Linked DNA regions of Homo sapiens: region 1 is linked to region 2. The links come from fine-mapping of genetic effects on gene expression. A gene starts in region 2. The other region holds a variant in brackets. All regions are shown on one strand. Distances are from middle to middle. Region 1 overlaps DHX34 (DExH-box helicase 34). Region 2 holds the start of DHX34 (DExH-box helicase 34).

The links.
Region 1: its variant is fine-mapped to the expression of DHX34 in whole blood (INTERVAL, PIP 0.97).

What each region holds. Positions count from the first base shown.
Region 1 is chr19:47,371,121-47,386,762 of GRCh38, reverse strand. It overlaps DHX34 (DExH-box helicase 34), which reads right to left. Exons shown (of 17, transcript NM_014681.6): 8 at 13,840-14,033; 9 at 13,063-13,164; 10 at 11,055-11,297; 11 at 10,666-10,839; 12 at 10,203-10,320; 13 at 9,557-9,663; 14 at 6,778-7,053; 15 at 5,771-5,947; 16 at 5,439-5,577; 17 at 4,059-4,783. The coding sequence ends at 4,650. Among named protein-coding and RNA genes, the nearest start is that of DHX34, 30 kb to the right of the region's middle. The variant A/G (reference allele first, on the strand shown) is at 8,512.
Region 2 is chr19:47,340,665-47,356,306 of GRCh38, reverse strand. DHX34 (DExH-box helicase 34) reads right to left here and starts at 6,992. Exons shown (of 17, transcript NM_014681.6): 1 at 6,955-6,992; 2 at 2,572-3,553; 3 at 957-1,268. The coding sequence starts at 3,276. It overlaps C5AR2 (complement C5a receptor 2), which reads right to left. Exons shown (of 2, transcript NM_001271749.2): 2 at 8,978-15,522. The coding sequence starts at 15,507. The coding sequence ends at 14,494. RefSeq lists enhancers at 746-1,245, 6,248-7,152.

The DNA.
Region 1 (15,642 bases), 30 kb before region 2:
CTCCGCCTCCCGGGTTCAAGCAATTCTCCTGCCTCAGCCTCTGGAGTAGCTGGGATTACAGGCATGCGCCACCATGCCTGGCTAAATTTTGTATTTTTAGTAGAGACGGGTTTTCTTTTTTTTTTTTTTTTTCTTTTTTGAGACGGAGTCTTGCTCTGTCAACCAGGCTGGAGTGCAGTGGCACGATCTTGGCTCACTGCAAGCTCTGCCTCCCGGGTTCACTCCATTCTCCTGCCTCAGCCTCCCGAGTAGCTGGGACTACAGGCGCCCGCCACCACGCCCAGCTAATTTTTTTGTATTTTTAGTAGAGACGGGGTTTCACCGTGTTAGCCAGGATGGTCTCGATCTCCTGACTTTGTGATCCTCCCGCCTCGGCCTCCCAATAGAGACGGGGTTTCTCCATGTTGGTCAGGCTGATCTTGAACTCCTGACCTCAGGTGATCTGCCCGCCTAGGCCTCCCAAAGTGCTGGGATTACAGGCGTAAGCCACTGTGCCCGGCCCCTGGAAAACAATTTTTAAGAGTCCACTAAAACCAAACATATATGCGTGTCCTATAATCACGTCCTATAACCCTGGATACATACAGGACAGAAATGTACAATGTATTCATCAAAATCCAGGTACTGTGTGCTCCTAGTAACGTTATTTGTACCTGGAACCAAGCCTGTGCACCTCCGCCTTTCCCACCTCCTGAGCGTCTCCCCTCCACCCACCTGATACCTCATCATCCTTCAGGCCTTAGCTCTGACCTTCCTCCTCCCAGAAGCTGACGCTGACACCCAGCACGTCCCCTCTGATGGGGCCTTTGTTCTGCAGAGGGAGGGAAGGGCTGGTGTTAGGGGTAGGTTTCTGGAAGCCAAATGTCCCTGGACAAAAGAATGGATATATTGTGATGAATTCATGGAACAGAATGAATGAACCAAGCCCATGCAACCTCATGTTGGGTAAAAGAAGCTAGACACAGACAGCACATTCTTGTGAAGTTTTAGAGTGGCCAGCACTAGAGGACAGATTAAGAATGTTGGTCACGGCCGGGTGCAGTGGCTCACGCCTGTAATCCCAGCACTTTGGGAGGCTGAGGCGGGAGGATCACCTGAGGTCAGTAGTTCAAGACCAACTTGGCCAACATGGTGAAAACCCGTCTCTACTAAAAATGCAAAATTAGCTGGGCATGGTGGCGGGTGCCTGTAATCCCACATACTCGGAAGGCTGAGGCAGGAGAATTGCTTGAATCCCAGAAGCAGAGGTTGCAGGGAGCCGAGATTGCACCGTTGCACTCCAGCCTGGGCGACAAGAGCAAAACTCCATCTCAAAAAAAAAGAATATTGGACACTCCTGGGAGACGGAGGAGCTGGGCTGCAGCGGGTGGAGGGCTGCTGGTGTTTTATTTTTTTATCTGGGTGCTGCTGGCACAGGTATGTTTCATCTGGGAAAATTCACCAAGCTGTTTACTTATAATTTGTGCATGTTAGCCTTCAAGAGGAACATTTTAAAAGACTGTTGAGGCTGAGCGTGGTGGCTCATGCCTGTAATCTCAACATTTTTAGGAGGCTGAGGCGGGCAGATCACCTGAGGTCGGGAGTTCGAGACCAGCCTGACCAACATAGAGAAACCCCCGTCTCTACTAAAAATACAAAATTAGCTGGGTGTGGTGACACTCGCCTGTAATCCCAGGTACTTGGGAGGCTGAGGCAGGAGAACCACTTGAACCCGGGAGGCGGAGGTTGCAGTGAGCCGAGATTGAGCCATTGCACTCCAGCCTCAGCAACAAGAGCGAAACTCCGCCTCAAAAATAAATAAATTAAATAAATACTGTTGAATGAGCCGGGTGCAGTGGCTCACACCTGTAATCTCAGCATTTTGGGAAGCTGAGGTGGGCAGATCACCAAACACAAAATTTAGCCAGGTGTGGTGGTGCACGCTTATAGTCCCAGCTACTCGGGAGGCTGAGGTGGGAAGATCACTTGGTGTCAGAAGGCAGACATTGCAGTGAGCTGAGATTGTGCCACTGCACTCCAGCCTGGGCAACAGAGCAAGACCCCATCTCAAAGAAAAAAAGTATATAAACCCCTAGTTTTAGTTAGGGAGACGGATTTGAGACTGATTTCCCATCTCCTCAGCCACGCATCTGATTAAAGCCTTCTTCCTTGGAAAGAAAGGAAGCCCATGGTTCCAGACCAACCTGGGCATCATGGTGAAACTCTCTACAAAAAACAAACAAAAAAACCTATTCACACCCAAAAATTAGCTGGGCATGGTGGCACATGCCTGTAATCCCAGGTACTTGGGAGACTGATTTGGGAGGATCACTTGAGCCCAGGAGGTGGAGGCTGCAGTAAGCTGAGATTGCACCACTGCACTCCAGCCCGGGCAACAGAACGAGACCCTGCCTCAAAAAAAAAAAAAAAAAAAAAAAAAAAAAAAAAAAAAAAAAAACTGTTGAATGGAATCTGTTACCAAAAATCAGGGGTTCAGTCCAGGTCCTGCTGCTGGTCGCACAGAAAGCCAATCACTAAAGCGAGTATTGCCAAGAAGAAGGCTTTAATGAGATGTGCAGCCAAGGAGATGGGAAATGACTCTCAAATCCATCTCCCTGACTAAGACTAGGGGTTTATATACTTTTTTTCTTTGAGATGGGGTCTTGCTCTGTTGCCCAGGCTGGAGTGCAGTGGCACAATCTCAGCTCACTGCAATGTCTGCCTTCTGACACCAAGTGATCTTCCCACCTCAGCCTCCCGAGCAGCTGGGACTATAGGCGTGCACCACCACACCTGGCTAATTTTTGTGTTTTTTAATAGAGACAGGGTCTTGCTATGTTCCCCATCCCAGTCTGGAACTCCTGGACTCAACTGATCCACCCTTATCGGCCTCCCAAAGTGCTGGAATTACAGGCATGAACCACCATGCCCAACCTTTTTTTTTTTTTCTGTTTCTAATATGGTGAATCAGATTGATTTTCAAATGTTAAATCAACCTTCCATTCCTAGAATAAGCCCCAGTTGGCCATGATGTACTGTATTTATATATTGCTAAATATGATGTGCTGAACTCCTATTTAGGGTTTTTGTCTATGTTCATAAGGCTTAGAGTTTTCTTTTCTTGCATTGTCATAGCCTGCTTTTAGCAGCAGGATAATGCTGACCTCATAACATCAGTCAGGAGGCGTCCTCCCCTATGCTGTGGCCAAGTGGGTGTGGGCGAGTATCATTTCCATGTTTGGTAGACGTCACCAGGGAGCCCATCTGAGCCTGTTCTCTTTGTTAACTATGAATTACATTTCCTTAATAGAGTTGTTCCGGTTATCTATTTCTTCCTGAATGAGCTTTGGGTAGCTAGTGTCTTTCAATAATTTTTTCCATTTCAAATGAGTGAATTTCTGTGTGGCACGTTGTTTATCGTATTCTCTTCTCCTTTTCGCATCTGTAGGACCTACAGGTTGTCCTCCTTCCATTCCTATGCCGTGCCTTCTTTTTCTCCTGAGTGATTTTATTGTTCTTTTCATTTTCTTTTTTTCTTTTAGAGATGGAGTCTCGCTCTGTCACCCAGGCTGGAGTGCAGTGGCACGATCTCGGCTCACAAGCAACCTCCGCCTCCTGGGTTCTAGCAATTCTCCTGTCTCAGCCTCCTGAATAGCTGGGATTACAGGCACACGCTGCCACGCCCAGCTAATTTTTTGTATTTTAATAGAGATGGGGTTTCACCGTGTTGCCCAGGCTGGTCTCAAACTCCTGAGCTCAGGCAAACCACCTGCCTCAGCCTGATTTTTTTTTTTTTTTTTTTGAGATGGAGTTTCACTCTTGTCGCCCAGGCTGGAGTGCAATGGCATGATCTCAGCTCATTGCAACCTCTGCCTCCCAGGTTCAAGTGATTCCCCTGCCTCAGCCTCCCCAGTAGCTGGGATTAAAGATGCCCACCACCACACCCAGCTAAGTTTTTGTATTTCTAGTAGAGACAGGGTTTCACTATGTTGGCCAGGCTGGTCTCGAACTCCTGACCTCAGGCGATCCACCCGCCTCAGCCTCCCAAAGTGCTGGGATTACGGGAGTGAGCAACCATGCCCGGCTCAGCCTGTTCTTTTATTTTTTTATTACGGGAGTGAGCAACCATGCCCGGCTCGGCCTTTTATTTTTTTATTGTGAGTGGGTCTTATGGTGCAGCCTGTGGTCCCACGTGAACACCAGTGCTCCCAGCCCCCCTGCACAACTCTCAAAGTGACCCAGGTGGATGGGCAAATTCAGGGTCCCCCTACTTCAAGGGGTAGGAGAGACTGAGGATGGACTCAAGAGAGAGCGGCTGCGGAGGTGCTAAGAACCTGCACCTGGAATCTGGAGACATGGGAGGTCCCTGCTGGCTCTAACGCCCCTCCTACCCAGGACCCCTCAGGCAGCACCCTGCAGCAGGAAGAAGGAAAGCTAGACCCTGGGGAGGACTAACAAGGCAGCTGCTGCTTTCTGGATGGGCAGGTGCAGGCCTAACAGTGTGTATCAGCATGTGAGGCTTTATTCACAATCCGTGCTCCAGGCCCTCTGCACTGGGACAGGACCACAGGGCTAAGCCCAGGCTGGGGGTTCAGGCAAGAGTCCTGCCCCTAGTCCTGGGCTGGAGGGCAGGTCAGCTGCACGGAGGTGGGCAGGGCTCCTGGCCCAGCTCACACGTGCTGCTTCCGGTGGCGCAGCACCTCTGTGGGTGTAAAGAGGAAGTCCTTCCCGCAGGCCTCGCAGTGGTAGGGCCTCTGCAGGACAGATGTCTTCTGGAGGGTTTCGAGGGCAGCTTCCTCAGCCCCTAAGGGAGGAAAAGGAGGAGGCTGTGAGGGGCGTGTTCCAGTGCACAGGTCTACCTGCACCCAAATGCCAGGCACCTGTGGGGCTCAGGTTCTCTCCTGGCCTTTGGAGAACCCAGTTTTGCCTCCTCCAGGAAGCCCTCCCAGATTAATAAAAATACACAGGTCTGTCTTTACTCCGCATCCCTGCCAGTGAGAGAGACAGAGAGAAAGACACAAGGAGAGACATGGAGACTGAGAGGCAGACACAGCCAGCCGGGGATGGAGGCATGTGGCCCCAGTGCTATCTCCCCCACTGAACCCCAGTGTGTGGCATCCCTGGGTGACAACAGGGTGGAGGTGACCAAGGCAGAGATAGCTGCAGGACAGAGAAAAATAACAAGAGACATAGCCACAGAGAGACAGAAACAGAGACAAAGACAGCAACACAGAGACACCACAGGGGACAGGCAGACAGAAAGAGGTGGCGCTCCAGGCTCTCCCTGCCTTGGGCTCCTGATCTTCAGGACAAGGCCTGTGTGTGGCACCAGCCAGGGCCAGCGGGTGGAGGTCGTCAGTCCTCGAAGCTCTAGCAAGTGCTCACACGCACAGGAGACCATCATGGGATGGGCAGACGGCTGGGCAGAGGTGGCCGGGTCCCCACAGTCCTGTGCTTACCTGGGGGCCCATCCTGTGGGGCCTGGGGGCAGGTGTTCTCATGGGCGATGCGCTCCAGGGGCGTGAGGGGCGCATGCAGGCCACAGTGGGGGCAGGTCCAGAAGGTTCGGAGACAGTCGCTGTACAGGTCTGTGTCATTCTGTGGCAGGCCAGCTGTCAGGGCTGGGCCCCCGCCAAGTGCCACCCACCACCCAAGTGCCCCCCCGGGACCCTTCCCAGAAGCCCTCAGGGCCACGGGCCCCACTTGGGAACTATGTCCCTGGACTAAGGTGAAACGGGGTGGTGGGGTCTTCCTGAAATCCCACCTTCAGGGAAGGAGGGTTCATGCTTACCGTGAGGCAGTTGTAGGTGAGGAAGTCAGTGACTGCGTAGCCCCCCTTTGTGGGGTGGGGGGACAGGGTGGAGCTGCCAAAGAGGCCAGGAAGATGGGGGGTGGCTGGGATGGTCTGGGGTCCCACATACATGTTCTGGACTTCTAGCCCTGTGAGCCGCCGGAGGCTGTAAGGAATCTAAGGAAGGAGAGACAGGAAATGGAGAGAGACAGACTCAGGGAGATGCCGCCAAAGCACCTGGATCCAGCTGTGCCTGAAGCCCTCCCTCGGGCTTTGCAGTTACGGGAGCCAAGTGCTTACACCAATCACAATTTGGCTGCAGACACACATGACCAGGGGTCTGTCTAGAATATACCTGATAACCCACCCCCATCTAAATTGCCCTCCCCAGGCCCCTCTTCTGCCCCTGTCACTGGTGGGACCCCATTCAGACCTTGAGTCTAACCTTCAAGTCTGGCCACCTCCCCCCTCCTCCTCCTAGCATGTCAGCCTTGGTCCCCTCTCCATGGCTCACTGGGTTCCTGCTCCTTTGTCCTCAAGCCCTTCTACTCCAGGAAGTCAGCCTGGATTGTACCCTTCTCCCCACCCCACCCACATGAAGTAGAACCACGAGCAATTTCCACTCCCCACCTAAGAGTCAGGGGCTGGTTTCAAGTCTGCTCAGTTCAGTTCTTCCCATCCACAAGCAGACGTCTACGGCTTCCCTCTCACACCCTGCCTGTCCTTTACTGTTAGCAAGAGGGGATCAGCCACGCTTGCAGAAGGTGCTTAGTAAACAAGGCAGCAGTGGGTAGTGTGGCCTCTGGAACCAGGCTCCTGGGATCAAATCCTAGCTCCACCCAGACCAGTGGAGTGACCTTGTGTAAGTGACTGAACCTCTGTGGCCTGAAAACCCCCAAATGTGCCCATGTGGAGTGAATGGGAAGCCAGGCCTTCCCGAGGCTCAAGCCCAGTGACGGATGCCCCTTCTGGCCATAGGGAGGCACGGGCACCCTGGTGGAGGGTACCTTGGATGCCGTGAATTGCAGGAGTTCCTTGCTCAGGGTGGCCACCTCCTTGGGGCTGACTGGCGTATCCTCCTCCTCCTCCTCCAGCTGCTGCTGGGCCTGGTGCGCCAGCTGCCGGTCCAGGGCACTTTCCCAGCGGGCACGGAGCCGCAGGGAAGCCGCCAGGAGTCGGATGGCACTTTCACTGTCTGCTAGCTGCAGCTCCAGCCAGCCATCGGCCACCAGGCGGGAGCAGTCACCATTGGTGTCCAAAGACCGGCTAAAAAGCAGGAGGGACTGAAAGAGAGGGGGCAGAAGACAGGGAGTAGGTGGGAGGGGCAGGGCGCTATTGGAGACAGGCCCTGCCCGGCTGGGCTCCTGCCCACCCACCAGCCCTGTCTATGTGAGGCATCCACCTACCCGCCATCTACCCGCTGTACCAGGCACCCCTTCGGGTGCTGGGGATACGGCATGAACAAGGCAGCCGCTGAGTCAGGGAAGGGGGCTGGGGTGGCGGGGCGGCAGATGGGAGCGTGCTGGGAGAGAGACAGCTGCATTCTCAGGCAGGGTGGCAGAGGGACAGCAGGCACTCAGACACACACGACGTGCAGGGAGAGCCCAGACCCTGAGCACACGCTCCTCTGTGAGGACGGAAGTCAGCGCTGTAATTACCAGTGCTGTGGCTCATAAGATGTTGGGGAAAATCCTCAGGGCTGGGGCCAGGGCAGAGGAAAGGGCAGGACTGGCCATGCGTGGATGGTTTGGGGACCGGGGATGGTACAGGAGGGCTCCATATACTGTTCTGCCTGCTTATGTGAATGTGAAGTTTCTCCATCTTCTTCTTCTTATTATTATTATTATTAATTTATTTATTTATTTGAGATGAGTCTCACTCTGTTGCCCAGGCTGGAATGCAATGGCGCAATCTTGGCTCACTGCAACCTCCACCTCCCAGGTTCAAGCGATTTTCCTGCCTCAGCCTCCCTAGTAGCTGGGATTACAGGCACGCGCCACCCACCCGGCTAATTTTTGTATTTTTAGTAGAGATGGGGTTTCACCACATTGGCTAGGCTGGTCCCAAACTCCTGGCCTCAACTGATCCACACACCTCGGCCTCCCAAAGTGCCGGGATTATAGGCGTGAGCCACCATGCCCGGCTTATTATTTTTTGAGACAGTGTCTCACTCTGTCACCCAGGCTGGAGTGCAGTGTCAACAATCACAGCTCACTGCAGCCTCAATCTCCCAGGCTCAAGCAATCCTCCTGCCTCAGCCTCCCGAGTAGCTGGGATTACAGGCACACAACACCACGCCCAGCTAACTTTTTAAAATTTTTTGTAGAGATAGATAGAGTCTCCCTATGTTGCCCAGGCTGCCTTTGAACTCCTGGGCTCAAACAATCCTCCCACCTCAGCCTCCCAAGGTGCTGGGATTCCAGGTGTGAGCTGGCCAGATTCTCTCAACAAGCAGTCCAGTGCAGGGAGAGAGCGCCTCAGGTAGCAGGTCTGTTCCGCTTCCTGCGGCCCGGCTGGTCGCCAATCCTCTGTCCCTCGGCCTGCGTGCTGCCTGCTTTCCCATGCTCACATGAGCACCTGGCATCACCCTTTTGGTTTGCCGTCTGCCTCTACCATCCTATCTGAGCCCCATGAGGGTGGGGAGTTTGGTTGACATTGACCACAGCTGCACCCCCGGCCCCAGAACACTGAACACTAACAGTGCCTGGCCCACCAGACGGGCTCGAGGGAGGTGTGGACAC[A/G]CACAGAAGTGACTGAGCTGAGCTGGCTTTTGTGGTGTTGGTGGCAATCGCAGTGTCAACAAAACCCTGAGGCTCTAGGAGCCTGCAGGTTCCTCTCTCCCCTCCACGTTCCCTGGGACCCAAGCCGGGGAGTGCTGGTAGTGAGCCAGGAGGCAGGAGGGGGCAGTGTGACCCAGGAGCTCTGGCTTGGCCACCTGCTCGGTGTGTGACTTAGGTGACGTATCCCCGCCCCTGCCTGAGCTTCAGTCCCCTCTATAAAGGGAGACCCACAGGGCTGCGTGAGGACTCCGAGGCCAGGCCTAGGATCACAAAGACGCTCGAGGAGCACTAGGGGCAGGGCAGTGGCTGCCATGGGGCCCATGGCTCTGCTGCCGGTGCCCATGCAAGGGCATCCATGATCTGAGTTCGGCCTCAGCCTCCACCGGGGCAGCACCCTCCTCTCCCTCCTGGCAGCTGCCAGCCCTCCTGGCTGGGACCCTGTCCCAGCTCTGAGAAGTCCCCAGGGTCCTGTCTCCCTCGCCTCTCTGGCCTCATCTCCACACGCTCTCCCTTGCTGACTGCACGCCAGGCACATGTCTGCCTCGGAGCCTCTGTGCAGGCCACCCCACTGCCTGGAACACTCTGCCCCGAGATCCACACGCTCTCCTCTTTGGGTCTCTGCCTGGGGACACCAGGTGGCCTTATCTTGTACCACACCCTGTGTCCACCCTCCCACACGTCGCTCAGGGCATCACTGTGCTACTGCTGTCACTGTCCCCTGCCACTAGAGCCCGAGAGGGCAGGGGCTGGGCTTCATGCCTGGTTCCCTGCTGCGCCCTTGGCACCTGGCACAGCGCCTGGCACCCAGCAGGCACTTGGCAGGTTAACTGTTGAGCAAGTCCATGAATGAGAGAAAAAGCAGCCACAGCAACGGCCCAAGGCTGACGCCTGCGGCCAGCCCAGGTGCCAGGTGGCCCCTCCAAGCCCACGCGGTGCCCCCACCCACCACCCTGGGCAACGCAGCTCTCATATCTGGGCATGGGGGCGGGGTGGGGCAGAGGCCCACCTGGAGGGCAGGGATGCGGACGCAGTTCACCAGGTACGGCTTGTTGGTCTCCAGCAGGGACACGAAGCTGAGGAGCTGGTGTTTGCTGCTCATCTTGTCCTTGTCGTCTGAAAGGTTGAGGAGGACCGCTCAGGCCCACCCTGGCCCACCCAGGCCCATCAGAAGCCCGCCTGTCCCACCCGGTCAAAGTACACATCGATAGAAAGAGTATGCTTACGGCATGGCTTTGGTGGCCTGGCTCAGACAAGAAGGTCAGCCAAATCTGAATGTGACTCCCAGCACGCAGCCATGCCTGCAGCGAGACACCCTTCCATGCACACGGGTGCCAGGGGGGCCTCCCTCTGCAGGACCCACCTGGGAGCTCACAGAGTCCATAGGACAGGCCCCCTGACCGGTGCTCACTCTCTGGGCACAGCCACACTGGCTTAGGTTGACTATCACCACCATGCGGAAGGTGAGGCCCAGCAGGGGTGAGTCACCCAAGGCTACCCAGGGAGGCCTGGCCCTGGAACTTCCCCTCCTGTGGGCCCCCGTCAATACCAGCCTGGGCCGGTGTGGGAGCCCCAGCCAGAGGGGCCTGGGAGTTCACGGTATCCCTGCCCCTCACATCCCGGATGGGGGTTCCTTCCGCCTGGGCTCACTGTACCTCGGCTTCCGTCGCAGTTGCTGGCCTCCAGCTCCTGTGCGTGCAGCACCTCGGGGCTGCCAGCGAAGACGCAGGTGGGGTGCAGCACGGCGCCCTGCTTGGCCTGCGTGTGGAAAATCTGCGGAGGACAGAGAGAAAGCACAAGCCCTCCTATCTGCTCTCTCCTCTGCCCAGGATGCCTCTCCTCCACCCTCTGGCCCAGGTTCCCTCCTCCAGGAAGCCCTCCCTGACTCCTCCAAATCTGGGGCAGATGCCCCCTGTGGGCTCCTATAGTGCTCTTGACTCCCCAAGCCCTGCCCACTCTGGGTTGTCTGGGGATGGGTCTGTCCTCCCACTGGGTTGTGAGCCCCATGGGGACAGAACCAGGGTTGTTTCAGTCACCACTGCATTCCCGGCACAGGACAGGCACTCAGGGTTCGTGTGTTGGAGGACAAAACATAGGATGGGGCAGAACAGGCCCCACCTGGTCTGAGTCCTTTCGGCTGCTGTTGAAGGCGTCGGGGACGGCCAGCTGTGGGTACAGGCCCCGGCCCAGCACCAGCTTCAGCAGAGCCAGCTGCTCGCGGCTCAGGTCCTGGGCTGAGCTGGCAGCGGCCTGCAGCTGCGCCAGGTCATGCCGAAGCTTGAACTTCACATCCTGGGGGGAGCACGGGGAGGCAGAGTCTTAGGGGACCTGAGGGGCTCCTACCATGATCCGCAGACCCCCAGGCTCTGCAGATACCTGGGACCAAGCACCGTCCATGGAAACCCGGCTCCTGAAATGAGGACAGGGCCATGTCCCCTGGGACCCCCCCAGGAGAGGCCAAGGCCCACCTTGGTAAACCCCCACACCCCACAGCCCATGGCGCCCACCTGGATGTCCACGCCATCACTGGCCCCTGGGGGGGCTGGGCCAGCCCTGTCCTCGTCACTGGAGCCGCCGTCCTGCTCCTCCTGCAGCCGCAGCACCTTGCGCCTGCGCCCCGCGCCCTCCTCGTGCTGGCGTTTCAGCTGGTGCAGGGCCCGGCGCTCCCGGCGCTGCTGCAACCGACTGTAGCTGTCCCCTACCTGCGCGGCCTGGGCCCCAGCCAGCAGCCCGTGGTCCTCCAACAGCTCCTAGGGGCAGGTGGGTAGGGGTGAGGGCCTCAGGGCAGACTCAGTGGGCTCTGGACTCATGGAAATGGGGACCCTCCCAGTGGCAGGGCTGCTAGTGCCCAAAGGGGGCTGAAAACAGCCCCTCGCATGGTGCTGGGCATGGATCGCTGCTCCAGAGAGAGAGCTGTCCTCGCTGGTCAGTGGAGGGAACACCGGGGCCAGGGGCAAGAGGAGGCAGGTGCGGGCGTCCAGTGCCTTTTCCCACAGCTGGCTCCAGGCTCTGCTGACTGCCCCACCTGCCCCTTGGGTCTGGGGGGCCCTGCTTTCCCACACAGCCCTGGTGGGCGTCCTGCACTAGTGCTTCTGAGTGTAGCCCTGGGGCATCTAGGCACATGCTGGGAATGCCAAGTCCTGGGCCTCATCCCAGAACGACCAAGTGGAGAGAGGAGGGGGCTCGGCGGGGTTGGCCATCTGGACCCAACAGACCCTCCAGCTGCCTGTGACCCATAAAATCTGAGACCCCTGCCCTCCCCGTGCCCACATCTTGTCAACATTCCTCAAGTGACCCAATTTGGTTGGACCTTCTGTTTCCTGCTGAGCCCTGACCGATGGAGGACACAGGAGATTGTGCGTGCATGTGTGTCTGTATGTGTGCATGTGGGTGCAAAGGGCTCACACTTTCCATTAGATTCTCAAAGCATCTGGGGACCAATGAAGCCTGAACACTGCTCTAGCAGCCAGAGAGAACTCGGGACCCATGCTCAGAGCAATCGGGGCATCTGTGGTCCCCAACACCGGGACCCCAGAAATGGTACCGGAGGTGTCGGCTGGGTGACTGCCCCCTCTGGGCCTCAGCTTGCCCATCTCCAACCAAACAGAATGGATTACACCAGGAACCCTTTTATTCTATTCTCAATCCATGGATACAACCATGGAAAAGGACCTAACAGCAGGTCTGTCTGCACTCAGATGGAGAACAGTATCTATGAAACAAGCTGCAGAACTGTGTGGGCGCAGGAGAAACCCAAATCTTTTTTTTTTTTTTTTTTTGAGTGGAGTTTCGCTCTTGTTGCCCAGGCTGGAGTGCAATGGCTCAATCTCGGCTCACCACAACCTCCACCTCCTGGGTTCAAACGACTCTCCTGCTTCAGCCTCCCAAGTAGCTGGGATTACAGGCACGTGCCACCATGCCTGGCTAATTTTTGTATTTTTAGAAGAGACGGAGTTTTACCATGTTGTCCAGGATGGTCACGATCTCCTGACCTCGTGATCCACCCACCTCGCCCTCCCAAAGTGCTAGGATTATAGGCGTGAGCCACCACGCCCGGCTGGCAAGTGCTATTTTTATCCTCTCTTTTTATCGAGGGGAAGCTGAGGCCCAGAGACAAGCAGTAACACACCCGGGGCCACGCTGTCAGAAATGGCAGAGCTGGGATCTGTGGCTGAGGTGTCTGGCTCCAGATGTGCCGGCCAACCACAACCGTAGGCTGCCTCCAACACCATGCCCATGCAGCCAGCTCAGCATCCCCAGTCCGGAGGGCGAGCTCTTCCCGAGGATGCTGCATGTCCACTGACTCGGTCCACCCCTCCAGGAAGCCCTCCTGGATTTCTGCTCCCTTTGCTCTGCCCAGCTGCCCCAACACCTGGTCACCGGGTGGTGGGGGAGGTGGGTGCAGGGTGGGATTCTGGTCTGACCACTGTCTGGGAAGGGGAAGCAGTGTTCTGGAGTGTGCTTACACACGTCTGCCTGAGTGGGGCCGGCCTTACCCCTCCTCCCGAGCCTCACCTTGAACTGGCGCCGAAGGTTGGCCATTTCGTACAGTCGATGCTCCTCTATGCCCCGGCGGCGGCACCACTTGCGAGAGTTTCTGCTCCGTTCAGATTTCACCTGGGTGGAGGAGCAGACGCCAGGGTGTCAGGGCCTGGCCAGTGCGGGGAGGGAGGGGCTGACCGAGCACCCAGAGCCCCAAAATGGGCATCCCTCAGGGACACCTGCTCTCCTGCTTCCAGGTCTCAGCCCCAGTGCCCCCTCCTATGGGAAGCCCTCCCAGACTACCCACAAACTGGGTTAGATGCCCCGCTGGGTTGTCCCAGCCCCCTGGACTCCCCATTCCAGCCCTCTCTGGGTTGTCACTGTCACATCAGTGGTCTGTCTCCCTGCACTGGGCTGTGAACCCCGGGAGGGCAGGGCCAGGGTAGTTTTGGCACTGATGGGCCCCCAGCACTACACTACAGGGCCAGGGTTAGGGTGAGGACTCAAGGGACATATACTGGATCTCCAGATGCCTCCCAAGGAGCCTGGACTTTCTCCAGGTGGCACAGGTTTTCATCAGTGCTTCAGAAACCCCAGGCTCCTCTCAGCCCCGGGCCTGGGCACATGCTGTCCTGAGCCGAAAGCATGGATGATGGAGACATGGCCCTCCCCAGGCAGGCCCAGTCTGTGGGGGGCTCAGTGGTCCTCCCAGGGTGGGGCTGAGGGTGGGACACGAGGAGGAGCCACAGCCACAGAAGGCCTTGGCCCTGAGCAGGGTGACAGACAGAGGGCCCCCACCACCAGCCTCACCTGCACCCAGGCGTTGAAGACGTTGAAGAGCGTGAAGGGGTCACCCTGGTCGCTCTCCAGCGGCCGCCGTGCTGCCGCGCACTCTGGGCTGCTCTGGGCGCTGCGGGTGAAGGGCGACTGGACGCTAAGTGCGGCTGCGATGGTGAGCACAGGCTCCACCAGGCTGAACATGGAGCCCAGGATCAGCATCTTCCCTGCAGCGGCGGACACGGGGTTGAGGCTCCTGGGTGCCAGGACAGGCGCAGCCCTCACCCCTCGGGGCCCCAGCCTGCCCTCCCGCCTGCCCTCCTGCTCCCACCCCCTCCATCTTGCCCACTAAGGGTCTTGTGACCCAGATGGAGATTCAAACCCACGCGCTGTGCTTTCTGGTCACGTGGCCATGGGCAAGGGCCTCAGTTTCCCCATTTGTAGATTGGAGATGGCCAGTCCCTGCCTCCTTGGACACACAGGAGATACTGTCTAAGCGCTGACTACTCCTGTCACCAAGTTCCCCACTTTGCTATTTACAACCCACTCCCCCAGCGCTCTGATGCTTCCCTGGCTTGGTCTTTGCTCTAGGAGCTCATTTTGACCCATCACGGTGGACGTCTCTCCTCCGCGCTAGAGTGTCACCTGTAAGTGAGTCCCTCTAGCTCTGCCCTGGCACAGGCAGGCACTGACTCCTGTGCTTATCACAGGATGAATCTTCTCCTGCAGCCTTTGTTTAGGTCAAGGTGGAAGTGGAAGAGGAAGAGGGGACAGAAGGCGAAGACATGGAGAAAGATGGGGCAGGGGCTGGGAGAGGTAGGGAAAGGGGAGGAAGGACAGAGGGGAGGCCACAGAGAGGAAAAGTGGCAGGAACCGTCTCCCAGGGTGGCCGAGTCTCACCTGGAGACAGGTGAACCCTGTCTCCATCTGTGAGCGCTCCACAGCGGGCATCTAGACATCCCCTGGTTCTGGGCGCCCGAGCTGACGCTGGACTTCTGGGGGCTCCCTTGCCCACCTGTCCAGTAACTAGTGGTCTGTGTCATGTGTCTGACCCGCCCCCACCGTTGACCTTCACTGACTTTCCATAGTGCCTGTCACAAAACTGGACTCAAGCAGATCACCTGAGGTCAGGAGTTCGAGACCAGCCTGGCAAACCTGGTGAAACTCCATCTCTACTAAAAATACAAAAATTAGCTGGGTGTGGTGGCAGGCGCCTGTAATCCCAGCTACTTGGGAGGCTGAGGCAGAAGAATCACTTGAACCCTGGAGGCGGAGGCTGCAGTGAGCTGAGATCTTGCCATTACACTCTAGCCTGAGTGAACAGAGCAAGACTTCGTCTCAAAAACCAAACAAACAAAAAAAGCTGGCCTCATAAAACAAAGGTGGCAGTAAAGCAGGGCTTGGGGCTGTACTGTGCAGGCCCCTGTCCTATTCCAGGACACCCCAGCTCTGTCACCAGGGAAAAGTGGCCCCACCTCGCCGTGACGCTGCTTCCCCATCTGTAAACGGGGGAACAACAGCATTGGCCTCTCCTCAGGCTGCCAAGAGGATGCTTTGTGTTTCACCCTGTGAAGCGTTCAGAACTCCACCTGGCACAGAGGACGCCCAGCACAGGGTCATCCGTGCCTCTCAGTTCCCACTGTGACCCTGAGCAGCAGTTCTCTGAGCCTCGTTTTCCCCACAGGGCAAGTGGGGGCACCTGCCCCCAGCCCTCAGGGAGATAATGTGAGTGAGGCATTTACCATCACCTCCGATCAAAGCCAGGCTTCCCCATGCCCTCAGGAGCCTCCTGGGCCCAGCCTCAGTTTCCCCATCTACACACTGGGGGCGATCAGA
Region 2 (15,642 bases):
GCATCCGGAACCAGAAATCACAAGAGACAATGAAGTTCTTCCTGTAAGTCTTGACTATACAGACAAGGATAACTCACTAGGACAGTGTTTCTCAATTAGGGGTGGTTTTGCCCCAGAGGGAACATATGGCAATGTCTGGAGACATTTTTAATAGTCACAACCAGAGGAGAAGACTACTAGCATCTAGTGGGTAGGGCCAGGGATGCTGCTAGATATCCTACAATGCACAGGACAGCCCCCACGACAAGGAATTATCCAGACTGAAATGTCAATCTTGCTGACTTTGAGAAATCCTGCCCAGTGAGATGGCAGAGTAATGACAAAGGAGGAGCCCGGATCCCTGAATGACCACATGGAACAGAGTTGCCCAACAGCCTGGACCAGCCACACTGTTATATGAGAGAAATAAACTTCTCTTATTTGAGACTTTACATTTTTGGGTCTTTTTTTTTTTTGAGACAAAGTCTCACTCTGTCACCTAGGCTGGAGTGCAGTGGCGCGATCTCGGCTCACTGCAAGCTCCGCCTCCCAGGTTCACGCCACTCTCCTGCCTCAGCCTCCCGAGTAGCTGGGACTACAGGCACCCACCACCATGCCTGGGTAATTTTGTTTTTGTGTTTTTAGTAGAGATGGGGTTTCACCATGTTAGCCAGGATGGTCTCAATCTCCTGACCTCGTGATCCACCCACCTCGGCCTCCCAAAGTGCTGGGATTACAGGCATGAGCCACGGCGCCCAGCCATTTTTGGGTCTTCTTGTAACAGCTTTTACTCTAACAAGCACTTAGCACTCTAACCAGCTGATTATGAATGCTCAGAAAATGGTAGCTTTAAAAAAAGAGAACATCTTTAAATGAAAGAGATGGGAGATACAGCAGCAGAGAGAAGAGGCATGTCCAGGTTTGGACAGAGACCAGGTTGGAGGTCTGGGGATGTGGGAGGAGGGGGAAGTACTCACCGTGATGGGGAACAGCCTCCCAGGCACCTGTACCACAGGGGCATTGCTGAAATAGCTGGAGAAGAGCGAGATGTTGATGGTGGCCGACATGAGGATGACCTTGAGGTCAGGCCGCGTGGGCAACAGGCGCTGGAGGACGCCCAGGAGGAAATCGTTGTGGAGATGCCGCTCATGGACTTCATCCACAATCAGGACCTCATACTGGGGCAGGCTGGGTTCCCGCTGGATTTGTCGCAGGAGCAGCCCCACTGTCAGGAATACAATCTTGGTGGCCGCCGAACGTGTGCTCTCAAAGCGGATCTGGTAGCCGACCTGGGGTGGGAGAAAGAAAGGATCAGGAGAGGACCCTGAGCCTGGGTACCAGCCCCTGGCCCTGCCCAAATTGAAAATCTAAGCAGGCCGGGTGCGGTGGCTCACGCCTGTAATCCCAGCACTTTGGGAGGCAGAGGCGGGCGGATCACCTGAGGTAGGGAGTTCGAGATCCGCCTGACTAACATAGAGAAACCCCATCTCTACTAAAAATACAAACAAAATTAGCCGGGCGTGGTGGCGCATGCCTGTAATCCCAGCTACTTGGGAGGCTGAGGCAGGAGAATCACCTAAACCCGGGAGGCGGAGGTTGCAGTGAGCCAAGATCGCACCATTGCACTCCAGCCTGGGCAACAAGAGTGAAACTCCATCTCAAAAAAAAGAAAAAGCAAAAAGAAAATCTAAGCAAATACCATGCCTACCCATCAGACTCTGGAGTCCAACAGCTTGGGTTTGAATCTCACCTCTGCCACTTAGTGCCAACTGACCTTGGGCAGGCAATGCCATCCCTTATAGTTCTCCTCCTAGATGCTGTGAGAATTCCATGTGACAATGCACAGAAAGTATCTAGCACTGTGCCTCATGTATATATAATATTAACTATATAGCAATAACCTTTTCTTGAGTCCCTGCTATGTGCCAGGACATTATATGCCACTCTAAGTGCTTTATGTATATCAACCCATTTCATCCTCATGACCACCATGAGACAGAAGGACTATTATTGGCCTTCCAAGATGGCAGTTTGCATTGCAGTGATCGTCAAGAATTACCCTCGCAGCCCAACGTGGTGGCTCACACCTGTAATCCCAAAACTTTGGGAGGCCGAAGTGGGTGGATCACCTGAGGTCAGGAGTTTGAGCCCAGCCTGACCAACATGGTGAAACCCCGTCTCTACTAAAATTACAAAAATTAGCTGGGCATGGTGGCGGGTGCCTGTAATCCCAGCTACTCAGGAGGCTGAGGCAGGAGAATTGCTTGAACCCGGGAGGCAGAGGTTGCAGTCAGCCAAGATCGCACCAATGCACTCCAGCCTGGGCCACAGAGTGAGACTCCGTCTCAAAAAAAAAGTGATGAGCCTTTAGGACATTTCCCATTGTTTTGCTGTTAAAGTGCTACACTGGTTAATGCTAGCTCCTTTGTCATGTAGACCACAGACAAGCCACTCTGTGGATAAAGTTCTAGAAGAATCATCGCTGGGTCCAAGGGTAAGTGCTTCATTTTTATTGATACTGCCATATGGACAAGCAACCTATTCCCCCAAGGTCACGCTGGAAAAATCGGAAACCTGGTGCGTCCCACTCACCTGTGAGCCATACTGACTGAGGCTCTCAAAGCCCACACGCTTGGCCAGTGAGATGCAGGCGATCCGCCGGGGCTGGGTGCACGCCACATGACTGAAGCCAGCAGCCAGCAGGTACTGGGGCACCTGAGTGGACTTGCCACAGCCGGTGTCACCGGCCACTACCACCACCTGGTGCTCCTTCAGCGTCTGCAGGATGCGGTTCCCATACTGGGCGATGGGGAGGGCTGCCCGCTCACGCTGCAGCTTGGCCAGACGCCCAAATGCCTGCTTCTGGCCAAAGTCCAGGTAGTGCAACAGGGCTCGGCGGAACTCAGCCACTCTCTCCGCGGGCAAGTGCCTGCCCAGTCCCTGAGAGCCCCGCGTGGCAGGGCCAAGAACAGAGAGGTTGATGCGGTAACGTGGGTCGTAAGTGCGAGGTAGGTCGGCCAGCGCTGGGATGCTGTGCTTGGGCTGTCCAGGGTCTTTCTCCTCCTTCCTGGAGGTCTTGAGATTCTGGAATCTCTGCAGGCGTTCAAAGAAGGTCCAAAACTTCTGACATTCCTCAGAACCCTGACGGATGTAATCCTCTTCACGGAAGAAGGCATCTTCCAAGAGGCGACGCGTCTCTGGACAATTCCAGTCCCATTTCTCCAAGGCCTCTTCCTCGCTGGGAGCCCGGTGGTGGTCTCGGCGATCCCTGCCCTCCCTTGTTCTAGGAGGAGGCATGTTACTAATCCACAATAGGAGTCTCAGTTCTGATCACCCAAAACAAATATTCTCATCCATTCCCCACCTGCAACAATTTAAGAGGCCAGTGCCTGCAATAGAGAACTACTTTCTCTTCAAAGAGCTAATTTTTCCTCCTGGTCACGGCACAGGACCACCACAGATGATAAAGTGGCCAGAGGCCTGCTTGAGCTGGTGACACAAAGGGTACCTCATGACATCTGCAGTGATCTCTGGGATGGACACAAGTTCATTCTGGGTTTTCAGGCCCTGGATTCTTAAGAGAGAGAACAGAAGACATTAATTCTCTTTTGGGAACATTGCTTTTTTTGGTTTTGTTTTGTTTTTTTCTTTTTGAGGCAGGGTCTCACTCTGTTTCCCAGGCTGGAGTGCAGTGCCGTAATCATGGCTCACCACAGCCTCGACCTCCTGGACTCAAGCGATCCTCCCGCCTCAGCCTCCCGAGCAGCTGGGACTACAGGCACATGCCACCACACCCAGCTAATTTTTTACTGTTTGTAGAGATGAGATCTCACTATGTTGCCCAGGTTGATATCAAACTTCTGGGCTCAAGCAATTCCCCCACCTTAGCCTCCCAAAGTGTTGGGATTACCAGTGTGAGCCACCATGCCCAGCCCATTTTTAGAAACATTTCTAACAGCCTGTTTCTTAAGCACTGAACTAGAAAAAGGAGGTAATGAATATGACTACCAGAGTCCTCACAGACGGCCATGATCACATGATCTCTCATGTGACACACACGTCATCAGACTGTGACAATCCAGTGATGGGGACTGTGATAACAGAATCCTAGGGAGCTGTGGGACACCAAAGGAGGTTCCTCCTCCTTCCCATGCTTGGGAATCAGGGAAGGATCCTGGGAGGAGGGGATGTTTCACCTGAGACCTAAAGGAGAGATGTAGGTCACATGGCCAACCAACAGCAGAACCTTGTCTCCACAGGCAGTAATAGGAGAGAGGTGTGATATAATGAAAAGAATAAGGCAAGGGTTCTTCACCCGGGGTCCAGTGAGATTCAGAACATTGAGATAAAAGGCAAAATTTTGCAAGTGTTATATGTAATTTTTGCCTGCCTGGCACAACCCTTTACTTCTTTTCTGAGGACAGTATCCACCTTCCTTTGGACAACAGCCCTTCCTCGATTCTACATGGTTCTGAGGGCCTTTAAGACAAAGAACCCCTATTGGGTAGGCAAGTAACAAAGACCTGGCCAGTCTTAGTAGTCTACTCCCCCTCTAACCAAGGATTGGCCTGAGAAGCGGACACATGATCCAAGAAGGGCCAATCAGGGCCCTTTTGTGGAATTTACACTCGGTTGCTAGGACAGAAAAGCTCTCATTTTATCCATCATAATCAGGCAAGTTTGATATAAGCCTGGAGCTCTTTGTGGTAGCTCTGGAACATGACAGAGTCTTTCCTAAAATCTATCCTAGAGAAATAACTAGATACAGGCACAAGAATGGTCACTGCACCACAGGGAGAGGTGAAAGAGGGAGAGGAAGAGAAGCTTGGCAACATCATTTAGGTCTTGAAGCTTAGTTCCCTTCAACCCCCCACTTCTCAGCTACACCAGAAAATGCCTTTTTGCTTACAGTTGGAGTCTTTTTTGTTTTGAGATGGAGTCTTGCTCTGTCACCCAGGCTGGAGAAAAAAAATTAGCCAGGTGTGGTGGCGGGCACCTGGCTACTCGGGTAGTCCCAGCGACTCGGGAGGCTGAGGCAGGAGAATCACTCGAACCCTGGAGGCAGAGCTTGCAGGAAGCCAAGACTGAGCCACTGCACTCCAGCCTGGGCAACAGAGCGAGACTCTGTCTCAAAAAAAAAAAAAAAAAAAAAAAAAGAAAAAGAAAATGAGAGCATTCTTCTGAGGCTAGAAACTGCTTATGCATGCTGGGCCCCACTGACAGCATCCCGCTCCTCTCAAGGTATCTATCTTTTTTGGCTTCTAGATTGTCTGCATCTTCTAGTTTCTGTATAACTGTGTCTCTGACCATCTTTTGGTCTCTTGGCCTATTTGCCCTGGGCTCATGGCCTTCAGTGGGTTTGTTTCCCCCTCTGTCCCCTCCATCTCTCTCCACTCCATCTTCAGGCCTCTGTCTCTTTTTCAGTCCGTCTTGTTCATCATCACCCTCATCTCTCTTCCCTGTCCTAGTCAGCTCGCATCTCTCTTCACTTATGAGTCATTCTGTAGTCTGATTTTTCTCTGTAATCCAACTCTTCCTTTCTCCATCTCTCTTCAGTTCTCCATTTGACTTTCTCCATCTTTCTCATTAAAAAAAAAATGCTTTTTCAGGCCGGGCATGGTGGCTCACGCCTATAATCCCAGCACTTTGGGAGGCTGAGGCAGGCAGATCACCTGAGGTCGGGAGTGCGAGACCAGCCTGACGAACATGGAAAAATCCCGTCTCTACTAAAAATACAAAATTAGCCAGGGTGGTGGCACCTGCCTGTAATCCCAGCTACTCTGGAGGCTGAGGCAGGAGACTCGCTTGAACCCAGGAGGCAGAGGTTGCAGTGAGCCAAGATCGCACCACTGCACTCCAGCCTGGGCAACAAGAGCGAAACTCCATCTCAAAAAAAAAAAAAAAAAATTCATTTTTGTTTTTTTGAAACAGGGTCTCACTCTGTCACCCAGCCTGAAGTGCAGTGGCACAATCACGGCGTACAGCAGCCTCGACCTCCCAAGCTCAAGTGATCCTCCCACCGCAGCCTCCCAAAGTGCTGTGGATGACAGGAGTGAGTCACCACGCCCTTTCTCATTTTCTGTTTGAATCTTTTTTTCCTCCCTTTTGTCCTTCCAGTATTCACTCTCCATCACCACCTCTCTCCATTTCCCCATCTAATACTTTATCTCCCAATATCAGAAGCTTTAGTAATAGCTCATGCTTACTTACTCACATTAACACACAGACCTATCCTATCTGCATGATCTATTCCTATCCCACACCTATGTACATACACACACACACTTTTCTCACGACTGTCAGGCACTATGATCACCCCCTATTTTACTGAGCAATAGAGAGGCTAAGTGAGTAGCCGAGTGTTACATGAGCCACTCAAATCCAGGGGTTCGGGCTCCACTCCCTCGCTTTTCCATTTCTCAGCATCGTTCTCCATTATCTCCAGCTTTTGTGGGGTTCTTCCTATTTCAACTGTCTCCATCCTTCCGTATCTCTCGGTCTCCCCCGTGATTCAGTGTCTCGTTTCTCCATCTAAATTCCATTTTTTCTGTTTCTAGTGTCCACGATCAGTTTCCGACTTTTCCCTCCACTCCCCAAGTTCATGGGCGACCACGCCTCTCGGCCTCGTGGGCTCTAAGACTCTCGCTGGAACCCATCGGCACTCTCGCCCACGCTCTCTAGTTTTCAGCTTCCCTCCTCTCCCAACACCCTCGTCTTTCAGTCCCTCAGTTTCTCGAAGCTTCTTTTCGTGCCTCCATTTCTTTCGGTCTCTGGCCTGTCGCCCAGGTTCTCCCAGGGACGCTCAGGTGCCATCTCTGTCCGCGTTTGCCGGCCCTTCGGCTGCCTCCTACATTTCTCCTCATCTCGAGACTTCCCTCGCCCCTGGACTCGCACCCCAAACTACCCCCAAGCGGCCCAACTCCGACAGCCATCGCCGCCACAACCCGGTACACCCGTCCCGCCCCCCTCACTTACCACACGCCGCGAACGCCTTAACTTCCGGTCCCAAGAGCGCTAGTCTTGCGCCTGCGCACACAGCCATCTCGTTCTGACCCCGCCCCGCCACCACAGAAGAGCCAATCGGAAGCTCTGGGCTGCCCAAGACCCATCTTGCGCCTGTGCACAGCACGCTTCCGCCCCGCCTCGCTTGGGGCGGAGCCTCGAGTGATTGCGCCCTCTAGAGGCCAGTAGAGGCATTGCGGTACAGACTTGCAAGCGCCTCCTCCCCGGCCCCGCCCTCTCCTCCCCAAGCATAGCCACGTGCGCCTCAGCTCCGGGACGCCGGGGTTTTAACCCAAAGAGAGAGCTGGTCTGGGGCCCAGGAACTTTTTTTTTTCTTTTGAGACATAGTCTCACTGTCTCCCAGGCTAGAGTGCAGTGGCGTTATCTCACCTCATTGCAATCTCCGCCTCCCAAGTTCAAACCATTCTCCTGCCTCAGCCTCTCGAGTAGCTGGGATTACAGGCGCACACCACTACACCTGGCTGATTTTTGTATTTTTAGTAGAGACGAGGTTTCACGATTTGGGCCAGGCTGGTCTCCAGCTCCTGATCTCAAGTGATCCGCCCGCCTTGGCCTCCCAAAGCACTGAGATTACAGATGTGGGGCATCTCACTCAGCCTCTACCTCTTTTCTTTCTACAACCCCATTTTCTGTTACCTTTCTCTGCAATAAACTCAATCACACACATTCAGGAAGACCCCCAAGTATAGAAACAATCTCATTAGCCAGCAATGCACCCTCTCTTTTATTAACTGAAAGAAGAAACAGCTGGGCACGGCGGCTCACGCCTGTAATCCCAACAGTTTGAGAGGCCGGGGTAGGTGGATCACCTGAGGTCAGGCGTTCCACACCAGCCTGGGCAATATGGCCAACCCCTGTTTCTACAAAAAAATACAAAAGTTAGTCGGATATGGTAGTGTGTGCCTGTAGTCCCAGCTACTCAAGAGGCTGAGGTGGGAGGATCGATTGAACCTAGGAGGCTGAGAGACTGAGGCTGCAGTGAGCCATGATGGTACCACCGCACTCCAGCCTGGGTGACAGAGCCAGACTGTCTCAAAAAAAGAAAAAAGTGTTGTTGTTTTTTTTTTCTGAGACGGAGTCTCGCTGTCGCCCAGGTTGGAGTGCGGTGGCGCGATCTCGGCCCACTGCAGGCTCCGCCTCCCAGGTTCCCGCCATTCTCCTGCCTGAGCCTCCCGCATAGCTGGGACTACAGGCGCCCGCCACCACGCCCGGCTAATTTTTTGTATTTTTAGTAGAGACGGGGTTTCACTGTGTTAGCCAGGATGGTCTCGATCTCCTGACCTCGTGATCCGCCCACCTCGGCCTCCCAAAGTGCTGGGATTACAGGCATGAGCCACCGTGCCTGGCCAGAAAAAAGTTCTATGTCTAAAAAAAAGAAGGACTCTAAAGTTTTTGGCCTGAGCATTTGGAAATATGGAGTCACCATCTACTACCATCAGGAAGACGTGGGAGAGAGGCTAGAGAGAAAATCCGAAGATCTGTTTTCAGCATATTGTTTGAGTTATGCATTGGACATCAACTGGGGATGTCAAGTGGAACGTTGGATATAATTATCAAGCCTCTGGAAAACAACTTAGAGATAGAGAAGCCAATTCATACATTATTATCAAAAGAAGAAGAATAAATGGACTAAGCATTCTGCTTAAAATTTCCAAACAAGGCCAGGTGCGGTGGCTCACGCCTGTAATCCCAGCACTTTGGGAGGCCGAGGCAGGTGGATTACCTGAGGTCAGGAGTTCGAGACCAGCTAAGCCAACATGATGAAATCCCGTCTCTACTAAAAATATAAAAAATTAGCCAGGCATGATGACGGACACCTGTAATCCCAGCTTCTCGGGAGGCTGAGGCAAGAGAATCGCTTGAACCCAGGAGGTGGAGGTTGCAGTGAGCCAACATCGCATCATTGCACTCTAGCCTGGGCGACAAGGAGAAACTCTGTCTCAAATAAACAAACAAACAAATAAATAAATAAATAAATAATCCAAACAATAATTATAATTTTTAAAAAAGGAAAATTGGAGGAAATGAACAACAAATGGAAATCAACAAGAAAGCCACAGTCTATCAACCATAGGATTGTATAGCAAGCTTGAGACTAGTTCTTAGAGAAATTATTAATAACTTGGTTCTTTGAAAACTTAAGGAAATCAATATTTCTATGGTAAAAAAACAAATAGCAGAAATAGACAAACTTTAGAACAAAAAAGGGAAGTTATAGCAAAACAGATGGCTTTTAATAATCAAAGGTATTTTATGTAACATTGCACAGACTTAAATTTGAAAATTCCCGTGAAATGTATTCCAGTTCAAAAAAGAAGGGCTAATGATCTACAAAATGAAAACATTTCAAAAACCACAAAAGATGTTTTGTAAAAGTTATCAAAGAATGCTCCTAAGTGGCAACTGGTCCCAATAGATTAATGGGAGGATTTTGCAAACTTTAAGCCCCAAAGCGGGGTTTTAGCCCACGAGGGTTCTTGGCTTTGCCCAGAAAAGAATTCAAAGGTGAGCAGGGGCAAGGCAGGGGAAAACAGCTTGCTTTCTTTCCTTCCTTCTTTCTGTCTTTGTGTCTTTCCTTCTTTCTTACTATTTTTTTTTTTTAGACGGAGTCTTGCTCTGTCACCCAGGCTGGAGTGCAGTGGTGTGATCTCGGCTCACTGCAAGCTCCGCCTCCTGGGTTCACGCCATTCTCCTGCCTCAACCTCCCGAGTAGCTGAGTCTACAGGCTCCCGCCAACACGCCTGGCTAATTTTTTGTATTTTTAGTAGAGACAGGGTTTCACTATGTTAGCCAGGATGGTCTTGATCTCCTGACCTCAGGTGATCCACCTGCATTGGCCTCCCAAAGTACTGGGATTACAGACATGAGCCACCACGCCCAGCCTATACCTATTTTTAGCCTATACCTATTTATATAGGTATAAAAATAGCCTATACCTATTTTTAATTACATGTAGATTAAGGGGCAGTTTATGCAGAAATATCTAGGGAAGGGGCAGTAACTTCTGGGTCATGGGGTCATTGCCATGGGAAGGGGCAGTAACTCCTGGGTGTGTTGCCATGGCAATGGCAAACTGACATGGCACACTGGTAGGCGTGTCATAGAAAGTTGCTTCGGGCCAGGCGTGGTGGCCCACACCTGTAATCCCAGCACTTTGGGAGGCCGAGGTGGGCAGATCACCTGAGTCAGGAGTTCAAGACCAGCCTGGCTAATATGGCGAAACCCCATCTCTACTAAAAAATACAAAAATATTAGCTGGGCATGGTGGCATGCGCCTGTAGTCCCAGCTACTCGGGAGGCTGCGGCAGGAGAATCACTTGAATCCGGAAGGTGGAGGTTGCAGTGAGCCGAGATCGTGTCACTGCACTCCAGCCTGGGTAACAGAGCAAGACTCCTTCTCCAAAAAATAAAAATAAATAAAAATAATAAGTTGCTTCAGCCTCCTCCCTGTTTTAGCTGGTCCTCAATTTGGTCCAATATTCGAGCCGAGCCCCATCTCCAGAGTTGAGTCCTGCCTCCTACCTCAAAGGAGCTGTATAAATTGTTCCACAACAAATTTTATTTTACAAGACAGCCTTGGTCTTAATTCACGCATGATAATTCAGAGTAAAATACTAAGTAATAAAATATCAGGCCGGGCGTGGTGGCTCATGTCTGTAATCCCAGCACTTTGGGAGGCCGAGGCGGGTGGATCACCTGAGGTCGGGAGTTCGAGACCAGCCTGGCCAACATGGAGAAACCCCGTCTCTACTAAAAATAAAAAAAAAAAAACATTAGCTGGGTTTGGTGGCACACGCCTGTAGTCCCAGCTACTGGGGAGGCTGAGGCAGGAGAATCGCTTGAACCTGGGAGGCGGAGGCTGTGGTGAGCTGAGATCGTGCCATTGCACTCCAGCCTGGGCAACAAGAGTGAAACTCCGTCTCAAAAAAAAAAAAAAAAAAAAAAAGTGATACCAGTGCTTTCTGACTGAGCTCCTGTCTACCCTGAATCCAATAGATCCTAAGAGTTAGGCAGGTATATCGTCACCCCTGTCCAGCCTGAAGAAGTCACAGAAGTTGTATCTTCCTCCCTCTACAACCCTTAGGATTAAAGGTTCTCTTATAAAAGGGAGCGGGGAAATGTCAGAGGCATGTGAACCAGAGTGACTCCATCTTGAACAGGAGCTGGGTGAAATAAGGCTGAGACCTATGGGCTGCATTCCCAGGAGGTTAGGTATTCTAAGTCAAGGATAAGGCCGGGAACGGTGGCTCATGCCTGTATTCCCAGCACTTTGGGAGGCCAAGGTGGGTGGATCACCTGAGGTCAGGAGTTCGAGACCAGCCTGGCCAACATGGTGAAACCCTGTCTCTACTAAAAATACAAAAATTAGCCAAGTGTGGTGGCAGCGCCTGTAATCCCAGCTACTCGGGAGGCTGAGGCATAAGAATCGCTTGAACCCGGGAGGTGGAGGTTGCGGTCAGCCGAGATCGTGCCACTACAATCCAGCCTGGGTGACAGAGCAAGACTTCATCTCAAAAAAATAAAATTAAATTAAATTAAAAAAAATTAGTCCAGTTGTTACCCTTGGGGAATTTACAGTTTAGCTGGGACCTTGTGTTCCAGAGACTCAGAGAAAGGAAGAGCCCATTCTTTCTGGAAGGAGCATAAATCAGGGAGGGCTTCCTGGAGGAAGTGACATTTGAGGGACGCCTTGAAGGAAATTATTGATGATGAAGAGCAAGAGCATTGGAGTCAAAACTGGGATCAAATTCCAGCTGTCTGGTGTTCTTGCTGTGTGATCTTGGGTAAATGACCTCCCCTCCCAGGACCTCAGCTTATAAAATGAAGCATGCCACCCTATCTCCCTGGGCTGTTGTGAGAATGACCTTAAAGGAGAAACTATATGTGAAGTGCTGTTCTGGAGTAATGACCGCAGACACAGGTATCACTACTATGTTATTTATTTATTTATTTATTTAGCGGCAGGGTCCCGCTCCGTCACCTAGGCTAGAGTGCAGTGATGAGATCACGGCTCACTGCAGCCTCAACCTCCCAGGCTGAAGCAATCCTCCCACTTCAGTCTCCCTAGTAGCTGGCACTACAGGCATGTGCCACCAAACCAGGCTAATTTTCTTTTTTTTATTTTTGTAGAGATGGGGTCTTGCTCTGTTGCCCAGGCAGGTCTCCAGCTTCTGGGCTCAAGGGATCCTCCCGACTGGGCCTCCGAAAGTGCTGGGATCACAGGCGTGAGCCACCATGCCTGGCCTACCATGTAATTTAAAAGATCTGAGCAGGTAGAGTTCAAAAGTAAATTCTAGAACAGCATTTTGTAACAGAAATCTCTGTTATGATGGCAATGTTCTATAGCTGTGCTGTCGAATATGGCAGTCACCAGCCATATGTGGCTACTGAGCACTTGAACTATGGCCAGTGTGCCCGAGGAACTAAATTTGAAATGAAAATTTATTCTTTCTTTCTTTTTTTTTTTGAGATGGAGTCTCATTCTGACATCCAGGCTGGAGTGCAGCGGTGTGATCTAAGCTCACTGCAAACTCCACTTCCCGGGCTCAAGCAATCTACCTGCTTTAAGGAGGATTGAAGCAGAAGGATTCAAGCAACTCCCTCCTCAGTAGCTGGAACTACAGGCACGCCCCACCACGTCTGGCTAATTTTTGTATTTTTTGTAGAGATGGGGTCTTGCTATGTCGCCCAGGCTGGTCTCAAACTCCTGGGCTCATGCAATCCTCCCACCTCGGCCTCCCAAAGTGCTGAGATTATAGGCAGGAGCCACCAGGCCTGGCCAATTGATTCGAATTTGAATAGCCACAGATGGCTCTTGATTGTTGAACTGCACAACATAGATCAGAAGGACATTCCAGCCAGTGGCACAGCTTCAGGAAAGATGCAGAAGCGTGAATATAGCCCGAAGGGTGTGTATTAGCTTCCCACGGCTGCTATAACAAATCACCCCAAACATAGTGACTTAAAACAATACAAATGTATTTTCTTAAAGGTCTGCGGATCAGAGGTCTAAAAGTGTCAGGAGGTCTGTGTTCCTTCTGGGAGCTTCAGAGAGAATCTGTTTCCTTGTCTGTTTCAGCTTCTGGAAGCTGCCTGCATTTCTTGGCACCTCCTCACGTCACTATGACATCTGCTTCCGTTGTCACCTCCTGTGACTGACCCTGACCCTCCTGCCTCCCTCTTAAAAGGACCCTCGTGACTCCATTGAGCCCACCCAGACAATCCAGGATAACCACCCCTTCTCAAGATCCTTTACTTAATCTCACCTGCAAAGTCCCTTTTGCCATGGAAGGTCACCTCTTCACAGGTTCAGGGGATTAAGATGTGGACATCACCGGGGGTCATGATTCTGATTGCTACAGGGTCTGAGAAGCTAGAGAGTAAGTGTGTCCAGTGGTGGAGAGAAGCCTTGAATGCCGAGCTAAGGAGCCTGGACTTGGCCTTTCCTTCAAAATAGATGCATGACCTGTCAGCCTCTCACCACCTCAGCTCTGTTACCCTGATCCAAATCGCTATCACCTCCTGCTTGGACCATTACAGTAGCCTCCTCTCTGGGATCTTCACTGCCCCTACACCATACTCTCACCTCCACCAGCAACCAGAGGGATCCTATTAAAATCTTTTGGCCGGGTGCGGTGGCTCACGCCTGTAATCCCAGCACTTTGGGAGGCTGAGGCGGGTGGATCACCAGGTCAGGAGATCAAGACCATCCTGGCTAACAAGGTGAAACCCCTTCTCTACTAAAAATACAAAAATTAGCTGGGCATGGTGGCGGGCGCCTGTAGTCCCAGCTACTCAGGAGGCTGAGGCAGGAGAATGGCGTGAACTCAGGAGGCGGAGCTTGCAGTGAGCCGAGATTGTGCCACTGCACTCCAGCCTGGGCGACAGAGCGAGACTCCATCTCAAAAAAATAAATAAATAAATAGAATCTTTTATTTATTTATTTTTTGAGACGGAGTCTCGCTCTGTCGCCCAGGCTGGAGTGCAGGGGCTCAATCTTGGCTCACTGTCACCTCTGCCTCCCGGGTTCAAAACGATTCTTCTGCCTCAGCCTCCCAAGTAGCTGGGACTACAGGCATGCGCCACCATGCCCGGCTAATTTTTGTATTTTTAGTAGAGACAGGGTTTCACCATATTGGCTAGGCTGGTCTTGAAGTCCTGACCTCAAGTGATCTACCTGCCTCAGCCTCCCAAAGCCCTGGAATTACAGGCGTGAGCCACCGCAAATGGCCCTATATATCTTTGTTTATAGTCTGTCTTCCTCCACTAGAAGAATATCAGCTCCCTGAGGGCAGGATTTGTGTCTGTTTTGGTCACTGCTATATCTCTAGTGCCTAAAAAGGCCTTGCACATAGCAAGTGCATGATGGATATCTGTTGAATGAAGGAAGGAATAAAATGAAGACATCATTGAGCTCCTGGATCCAGCTATGCCTGAAGCCAGTCTTGTGAAATGAGATAAGAAGATACACACCCACAATGTCTCTCCAGCCTACACCTCCATCTCCGAGACCAGGTCATGGCTGGTGGATTTCTTGCTGTCCACACTTTCGTCCTGGCCCTGGGACTCCCTCAGGGCCCAGTGACAGGCAGCTGGCAGTGACCGGCGGAGTTGAGCCCTCCCAAAATACAGGAAGAGCATGGGATTGAGGCAGCTGTGAGCGAGGGCAAGGCCCACGATGAGGGGTTCAGCCCGCAGGGCCCTGGCCAGGAGTGCGGAGTTCGGGGCCGCCACAGTGAGCACCAGCCCCAGCAGGTGGTAGGGTGCCCAGCAGACAAAAAACCCCACCACAATGGCTGTGCCCAGCGGCCGGCAGCGTCGGGCTGCCCAGCACAGGAGGGCACTGTGGCAGCTGGCCACGGCCACCAGGGGCCCCAGGAAGCCAAAAAGAAACCGGATGGCAGTCACCGCATTCTCGGTGCTGGAGGAGCCGCCGTAGTCCACCACACACTGCAGCCGGGCTGGGAAGTGCTCCTGGTGCAGCCGGCGGTAGATGGCGGAGGGCACGGTGAGCAGCAAGGCCAGTGTCCAGGCTGCCCCACAGGCCACCTGCACCCCGCACGCCCGCTGAACCGTAGACCACCAGGCAGGCCCGAGAGCCAGGAAGCAGAGGTCGGCACTGAGAGCTGCCAGGAGCAGGACGCTGGCATACATGGTCAGCAGGATGATGGAGGGCAGCGCCCGACAGCCCACTGCACCATACGGCCAGTGGCCTCCACGGGCAATGGGCACTGCCAGGATGGGCAGAGACAAACAGCACAGCAAATCCGCCACGGCCAGGTGGAGCAACCAGGTGGCACCCACCCTCCGGCGGGCCACCTTCCCAGCCACCCAGGCCACCATGGCATTGCCCGGCACCCCCACCAGGAAGATGGCGGCATACAGTGGGAGCGGGGCCACGCGCAGCGGGTCGATGGCCAGGCAGGCGCCATCCAGGCAGTCCACAGGGCGGTCCGAGAGGTCGCTGTAATCCCCATACTCGTAGCTGACAGAATCGTTCCCCATTCAGGCTCCTGGTGTCTGGGCAGGAGAGAAAGACGATGAAAACTCAGAGGAGGAAACTCCATGGCCCTGGAGATCTAGGGTGTCCATCAGCCCGGCCCACCAGCACCTTGCAAACTGGAATATTGCGTCATAAGG